Homo sapiens: one gene and its partner. The protein of the gene in region 2 purifies or fractionates together with the protein of the main gene of each other region. This does not show direct contact. Each region holds a gene or a part of one and is shown on either strand. Other genes may lie near its edges.

The links.
Region 1: the proteins of ZNF563 (region 2) and SHCBP1 purify together in Homo sapiens (affinity purification with mass spectrometry; 2 studies listed by BioGRID and IntAct, with this or other methods). This does not show direct contact.

What each region holds. Positions count from the first base shown.
Region 1 is NC_000016.10:46,600,671-46,604,495, reverse strand, and holds part of SHCBP1 (SHC SH2 domain-binding protein 1), read left to right. Parts: intron 1-34; coding exon 35-268; intron 269-352; coding exon 353-521; intron 522-836; coding exon 837-957; intron 958-3,825. UniProt on the Homo sapiens protein: May play a role in signaling pathways governing cellular proliferation, cell growth and differentiation. May be a component of a novel signaling pathway downstream of Shc. Acts as a positive regulator of FGF signaling in neural progenitor cells.
Region 2 is NC_000019.10:12,316,694-12,320,347, forward strand, and holds the end of ZNF563 (zinc finger protein 563), read right to left. Parts: intron 3,141-3,654; coding exon 1,901-3,140; 3' UTR 784-1,900; downstream 1-783. UniProt on the Homo sapiens protein: May be involved in transcriptional regulation.

The DNA of each region.
Region 1 (3,825 bases), on a different chromosome or scaffold from region 2:
GGCAGTGGATTTCACTTTGCTTTTAAACTTTCAGGCATTATGACATTCTTGAAGACCGAGTTCCATCAGGACTTATTGTTGACTACCACAATCTGTTGTCTCAATGTGAGGAGAGTTACAGGAAATTTTTAAATCTGAGAAGCAGTTTGTCAAATTGTAACTCTGATTCCGAGCAGGAAAATATCTCCATGGTGGAAGGGTTAAAATTGTATTCGGAGATGGAACAGTTGAAACAAAAGCTGAAACTCATTGAGAATCCTTTGTTGAGGTATGTGTGTCTTTGTAATTCTTAGTTAGTCAGCATCTTTTCTTACTTGCTGTCTTACTGATAGGCCTGTTTCGTTTCTTTAAGGTATGTGTTTGGTTATCAGAAGAATTCTAACATCCAAGCAAAGGGTGTCCGTTCCAGCGGTCAGAAGATCACTCATGTGGTCTCCTCCACCATGATGGCTGGTCTCCTGCGGTCCCTGCTTACGGACAGGCTTTGCCAGGAGCCTGGTGAGGAAGAAAGAGAAATTCAGGTAAACGGAGAGTTTCTCACTCCAGGTGGCTTTTTTTCCTTCTGATTCACCACAGGTTTTCACAAATCCCACAAAGTATTTACAGGAGCTTTCCCAAGACGGTTTTCTGTGCATGGGAAGTAGTGAGAGCCCTGCCTTTCATCAGCAGTAGTCACTTACCAGGCATGTGTTAGGTCAGTGCGCTATCAAAGGAGATGCTTCAATATGCAGTTTTTGGCTTCCATTTTCAAAGTAAGACATGAAGTCACCTAGAGTAATACTCAAATTACTTTTTTGGGAGTGTATATTTACAAATGTGTTCTTATTGTTTTCTAGTTCCATAGTGATCCATTGTCTGCTATAAATGCCTGCTTCGAAGGTGACACTGTTATTGTTTGTCCTGGCCATTATGTGGTACATGGCACTTTCTCCATTGCTGACTCCATTGAGTTGGAAGGTGAGTATGGAAGACACACAACCAAACTCTCACACGTGATATGTTTAAGTAAACAATAAATCACCAATCTTGTTGAAACTCCAAGAATGTGATTTGAACCCATTTGATTTCTAGTGAGCTGCCTTGAAACATTAAGGACATGGAAAGCTGAAAAGAGGTTGACCCAGTGTTTCAGCAATTTGAGTTGTGGTTCTTTGTAGCAGTGTGTATGTTGGGGAGATGTTCACAGGCTCATATAGAAAAAAGACCATTAGGAAGAAGCATACTTTCCAGATTGTAGGTGGTTTATGGAAAGGAAATCTAATTTCTAGAATTAAAAAAAAATTCCTAGCAATATTTTTAAAAATTTTAGTATTTTAAAAATTTGTTGCTTGCTCTTATCTCATAGATGTTGCAGATATGTTAGTGCATGGCTTTTTGTTTTTTGTTTCACACTTAGCTTATTTTCGTGAGAGGTATAATGAAGGGCATTTAACTTGAAATTGGTACCAATTATCTTAATTCTCTAAATGCTTGCCGAATGTCACAAATGCTACACTTTGTGTCTTGACCAAAGTATACTTTAGAAAAGATTAATGTTGAAAGATTCTATTAAAAATAACTTTTTGGGCTGGGTGTGGTGGCTTACGCCTGTAATCCCAGCACTTTGGGAGGCCGAGGTGGGCAGATCACTTGAGGCCAGGAGTTTGAGACCAGTCTGGCTAACATGGTGAAACCCCGTCGGTACTAAAAATACAAAAATTAGCCGGGCATGTTGTTGCACGCCTGTAATCCCAGCTACTTGGGAGGCTGAGGCAGAACAATCGCTTGAACCTGGGAGGTGGAGGTTGCAATGAGCCAAGATCATACTACTATGCTTCAGCCTGGGTGACAGAGCAAGACTCTGTCTAAAAAAAATAACTTTTTCACAGTTATAATCTTATTGTTCATTTAGAGTGATTTCTAAATTTAGGTTACTTTACAATTGTTCATCTTGGTCCTGTATATTTTCATAACATGTCAAATTTAGTTACACCTGTTCAACTATTTATCAAAATAGCTTCAAGTTAGCAGTGAAGCTTGTAATGCAAAAAATCATATATCATTTTGGGACTTGTGCAGCTGTTCAGAAACTGCTTAAGCTATGCTCTTTATCTTGTCAGTACTTCTAAATGGAACTGAAGCTGGAAGTTTAGTTTTCTCCTGTTCCTAGTACATCATCTCACCCCCTTTTTTATTTTATGTGTGTAATTTTTGTTCTTTTCTACTCTCCAATTTTTGATGTATAATAGATGTGTGTATATAAATAACACATCTGCAAGATAAATCACTGTGATAAAAACACTTTATTTTTTGGCATAGTGGAAATAACACTGATATTATAGTTTGTATGGTAGATAAGAGTTCTTCCTAGATTGGTGAGGAAATTTTAATGTAATTGCCAGAGTGTCATAAATGGACATATAGAATGCTGATAGTTAAGTATAAAAATGGCTGTATATTGACTAACAGTATGGGTCTGAGAATTGGGGAATCACAAGGTATCTCTAGTGTGCATATATGGAGTGTTCATGAGTAAGATTCAAGCTCATCTGATAGTGATCTATAGCTAACCAATATAACAAGAGATATATATTGAGTACCTACTATGTGCAGGGTGTCAATAGTACTTACAATAGGGTTTTTCTTTCTTGTTTTGAAAATCCATTCATTTAGGTAATGGTTTTATGTTTTAAGTGGAAAGAAATACATAATTATATAAAAATTTGTGTAAAAATCTTTTCTCAATATGCAATTCTTTTTGTACTTTTAATTTTTCTGATGATAAAAAGCAATGGTTATTGTAGAAAATATGCCAAGTACAGTCAGATACATACAACAATCAGAAACAAAATCACTCATAATTCAGGCATCCAGAGTCCACCCCTGGTAGCATTCCAGTGTGTGGAGTCCCCTTGCATTCTCTAGGGCCCCCAAAGCCTTGTTTGTCCTCTTCCAGTGTAGATACATTGAGCGGCTTTGCTTGTTAAAAACAGTTACTGCTTTCATTTACTCAAAGATTCGTCTTTAGTCAATGAGAGTTATTTCTTACAGCTTTGTCTATGTGGTTCTGTTTTATAATGGAAGTCAAGCGAATTCTTTAGTTTTCTGATACTCTAGTTTTTTGTAAGCCCACTCAGGTGTTTGGCTTGCATTAATGGTTTGAGTAAGATTTATACAGATCTGATGGTTTTTTTGTTTTTGTTTTTTTGAGGTGGAGTCTTGCTCTGTCGCCCAGGCTGGAGTGCAGTGGTGTGATCTCAGTTCACTGCAGCCTCTGTCTCCTGGGTTCAAGCGATTCTCCTGGCTCAGCCTCCTGAGTTGCTGGGATTACTGGTGCCTGCCACCATGCCTGGCTAATTTTTGTAGTTTTAGTAGAGACAGGGTTTCTCCATGTTGGCCAGGCTGGTCTCGAACTCCTGACCTCAAGTGATCCACCTGCCCTGGCCTCCCAAAGTGCTAGGATTATAGGCGTGAGCCACTGCACCTCACTGAGATCTGATGCTTTTTTTTTGAGACAGAGTCACTGTCACCCAGGCTGGAGTGCAGTGGCACGATCTCCTCTCACTGCAATCTCCGCCTCCCAGGTTCAAGCAATTCTCCCACCTCGGCCTCCTGAGAAGCTGGGATTACAGGCACATGCCACACTCGGCTAATTTTTATATTTTTAGTAGAGGCAGGATTTCTGTATGTTGGCCAGGCTGCTCTTGAACTCCTGACCTCAAGTGATCCACCTGCCTCAGCCTCCCAAAGTGCTGGGATTACAGGCGTGCGCCACCGTACCCAGCCTTGATCTGATGCTTTTTATTTGTTAATGAGGTAGACTGTTTTTTTCCTGTAACTGTAACT
Region 2 (3,654 bases):
TTTAGACTGCTCCAAAAATTCAGTATCTGCAGTCAGAATCTGTTTCTTCCAATATAGTTGATCATGTTGACATCCTGTCAAGATTCGAGTTAGCCTGAGGTCTCACTGCTTATCTGTGGTGTCACACATCTAGCTGACTCAACACATCACAACATTAGGCACGATATTGCAATAATCATCATTACACTTTTGTTGGGTGAATGTTAACACATTTTCAGGTCATTAAACAAAAGCAATCTATGAGTGTTGAAAGAAAAGATTTATAATGCTCTAGGTGACATGTATTATGTGGGTGGGTCTGTACTGAATATGTGTAGGGTCTTTCTCATATCATGATTCACTAAACAATATAATAACAACTATTTACATAGCTTCTATGATGCATGATGTATTTTAACTAATCTACAGATGATTTAGAGTATACAGGAGGATGTGGGTAGGTTACATGCAAATATTTTTTATTGTTATTATTTTTTTGAGACAGGGTCTCATTCTGTTGCCCATGCTAGAATGCAGTGATGTGATTTTGACTCACCGCAACCTCAACCTCCCAGGCTCAAGCGATCCTCCCACCTCAGCTTCCCTAGTAGCTGGGACTACAGGTACATGTCACCACACCTGGCTAATTTGTGTATCTTCTGTAGAGACAGGGTTTTGCCACATTACCCAGGCTGGCCTCTAACTCCTGGGCTCAAGTGATCCACCTGTCTTGGGCTCCTAAGGTGCTAGGATTACAGAGGTGAGCAACTGTGTCTAACCCAAATATGTCTTTTCTTTCTTTCCTTTTTTTTTTTTTTTGTGTGTGTGACAGAGGTTGTTTTGCTCTTGCTGCCCAGGCTGGAGTGCAGTGGCGCGATCTTGGCTCACCGCAACCTCCGCCTCCCGGATTCAAGTGATTATCCTGCCTCAGCCTCCTGAGTAGCTGGGATTACAGGCATGTGCCATCACATCCGGGTAATTTTGTACCAAATATGTCATTTTTAAAAAAGGACTTGGCATGTGTCGATTTATGTATGCCCAGGGGGTGGTAGAACCACGCTCCTGCAAATATTAGGGGATAACTGTATTTGAAAGAAACTGAGGCTTAAAATTAAGGCTTTACTATGTGTTTACATTCATAGGGTTTATCTCCAATGAGAATTATTTCTATCTGAAATGAAATAACATTAAAGAATACTTCCCTACATTTCACACATTTATAGAGTATCTCTCCAGTGAGTCCTTTTATGTCTATGCAAGGACCTGAGAGAACTCAATGCTTTTCTACATTTCTTACATTCATATGACTTCTCTCCAGAGTGAATCCTTTCATGTACTTTTTTTTTTTTTTTGAGACAGGGTCTGGCTCTGTCGCCCAGGCTGGGGTGCAGTGCATCTTGGCTCACTGCAACCCCCACCCCTTGGGCTCAAGAGATCTTCCCACCTCAGCCTCCCAAGTAGCTGGGACTACAGGGGCATACCACCACACCTGCTACTTTTTCTATTTTTTGTAGAGACATGGTTTCACCATTTTGCCCAGGCAGGCCTCAAATTCCTGAGGTCAAGCAATTTGCCCACCCTAAGTGCTGGGATTACAGGCGTGAGCCACTGTGCCCAGCCTCATGTACTTTTAAGTTACCAAAATGACTGAAGGCTTCCCTACATATTTTACACTCACAGAGTTTTTCTGCTCTGTGAGTTGTTTTATGTTGACAATGGTGTTAAAAAAAAATCGATCACTTTCCCACATTCCTTATATCATACAGCATCTCTCCAGTGTGAGATATTTCATGATTTTGAAAGGAATAAAAATTATGAAAGGCTTTCCCACATTTACATTTATAGGGTTTCTGTCCAGTGTAAGTTTATTCATGATATCAAAGGGAACTGGAAATATAGAAGGCTTTATAATAGTTTACATTCATATTGTTTCTCTCCAGTGAGTCTTTTCATGTCTTTGACATACACTGGGATAAACAAAGGCTTTCCCACATACCTTGCATTTATTCGGCCCATCTCCCGTATGCATTACCATATGTCTTCGAAAGCTTGAGCTATGAGATAACGCTTTCCCACACTGCTTGCATTCATAGGGTTTCTCTCCACTGTGAGACTTTTCGTGTCTTTGACATACACTAGGATAAACAAAAGCTTTCCCACATATCTTGCATTTATGAGGTCCACCTCCAGTGTGCATTATCATGTGTCTTCGAAAGCTTGAGCTATGAGATAACGTTTTCCCACACTGCTTGCATTCATAGGGTTTCTCTCCAGTGTGAATTCGTTCATGATATCGAACTAAACTGGGACGATCAAAGCCTTTCCCACATATCTTACATTTATGAGGTCGATCTCCAGTGTGCCTTTTCATGTGTATCTGAAAGCTTCCAAGATGATGAAATGTTTTCCCGCATTGCTTACACTCATAGGGTTTCTCTGCACTGTGAGTGGTTTCATGTCTTCGAAGGGAACTGGAAACACTGAAGGCTTTCCCACACTGTTTACATGTATATGGTTTCTCTCCAGTGTGAGTTCTTTCATGTCTTATATAGGAACTGGAATCAGGCAAGGCTTTAGAACACTGCTTACATTCATACGGTTTCTCCCCAGTGTGCATTCTCTCATGTCTTCGATAGGAACTGTAAAAAGGAAAGGCTTTAGAACACTGCTTACATTCATACGGTTTCTCTCCAGTGTGAGTTCTTTCATGCATACGTAATAAACTGGGCCAAAAAAAAGCTTTCCCACACAACTTACATTTATAAGGTCTATTTCCACCTTGCACTACCATGTGTCTTCGAAGGTTTCTACGAGAACTGAAGGTTTTTCCACATTCCTTACACTCATAGCGTTTCTTTCCAGTGTGAGGCCTTCCACGCGACTGAAAGGAGTGATGGTAACTGAAGGCTTTCCCACGTTGTTTATGTGTATGTGGCTTCTCTCCATATTCCTGATACTCATGTGGTTTGTGTCCAGAATCAACTCTGATGTGGCTATTAAGGGATAAATGACCCATTATGACTTCTTCACACTCAGCGCTTTGACATGGATCTTCTCCAGGACAAATGCTGTTGTTCACAATACTATCTCGAATGAGGCTAAATGTTTCTCCACACTGACTACTGTCTTTACTTTCACTGAATCTCTCTACCATATGACATCTGTAAAAAATGAGTAGTACGTTACTAAATAGTTGTTTCTAAATGATTATTTATTTATGTGTATTAATAGGTATTGGATGTACTTTTTTTTTTTTTTCCCTGAGATGGAGTCTTGCTCTGTCACCCAGGCTAGAGTGCAGCGGCACGATCTCGGCTCACTGCAATCTCTTCCTCCCGGGTTCAAGCGATTCTCCTGCCTCAGCCTCCCAAGTAGCCGGGATTAGAGAGGCATACGCCACCACGCCCAGCTAATTTTGTATTTCTAGTAGAGACAGGGTTTTGCCATGCTGGCCAGGCTGTTCTCGAACTTCTGACCTCGTGATCCACCCCCCCTTGGCCTCCCAAAGTGCTGGGATTACAGAAGTGAGTCACTGCGCCTGGCCAGATATACCTTTTTATCATTACCATGCAAAGTGTAGGCTTCATGCCCTGTTTGAACATGAATGAACTGAATGCTATGCAAGACAACCCAACACCAGCTGGGTTTTTTTTTTTTCCTTTTCTTTTTAATTAA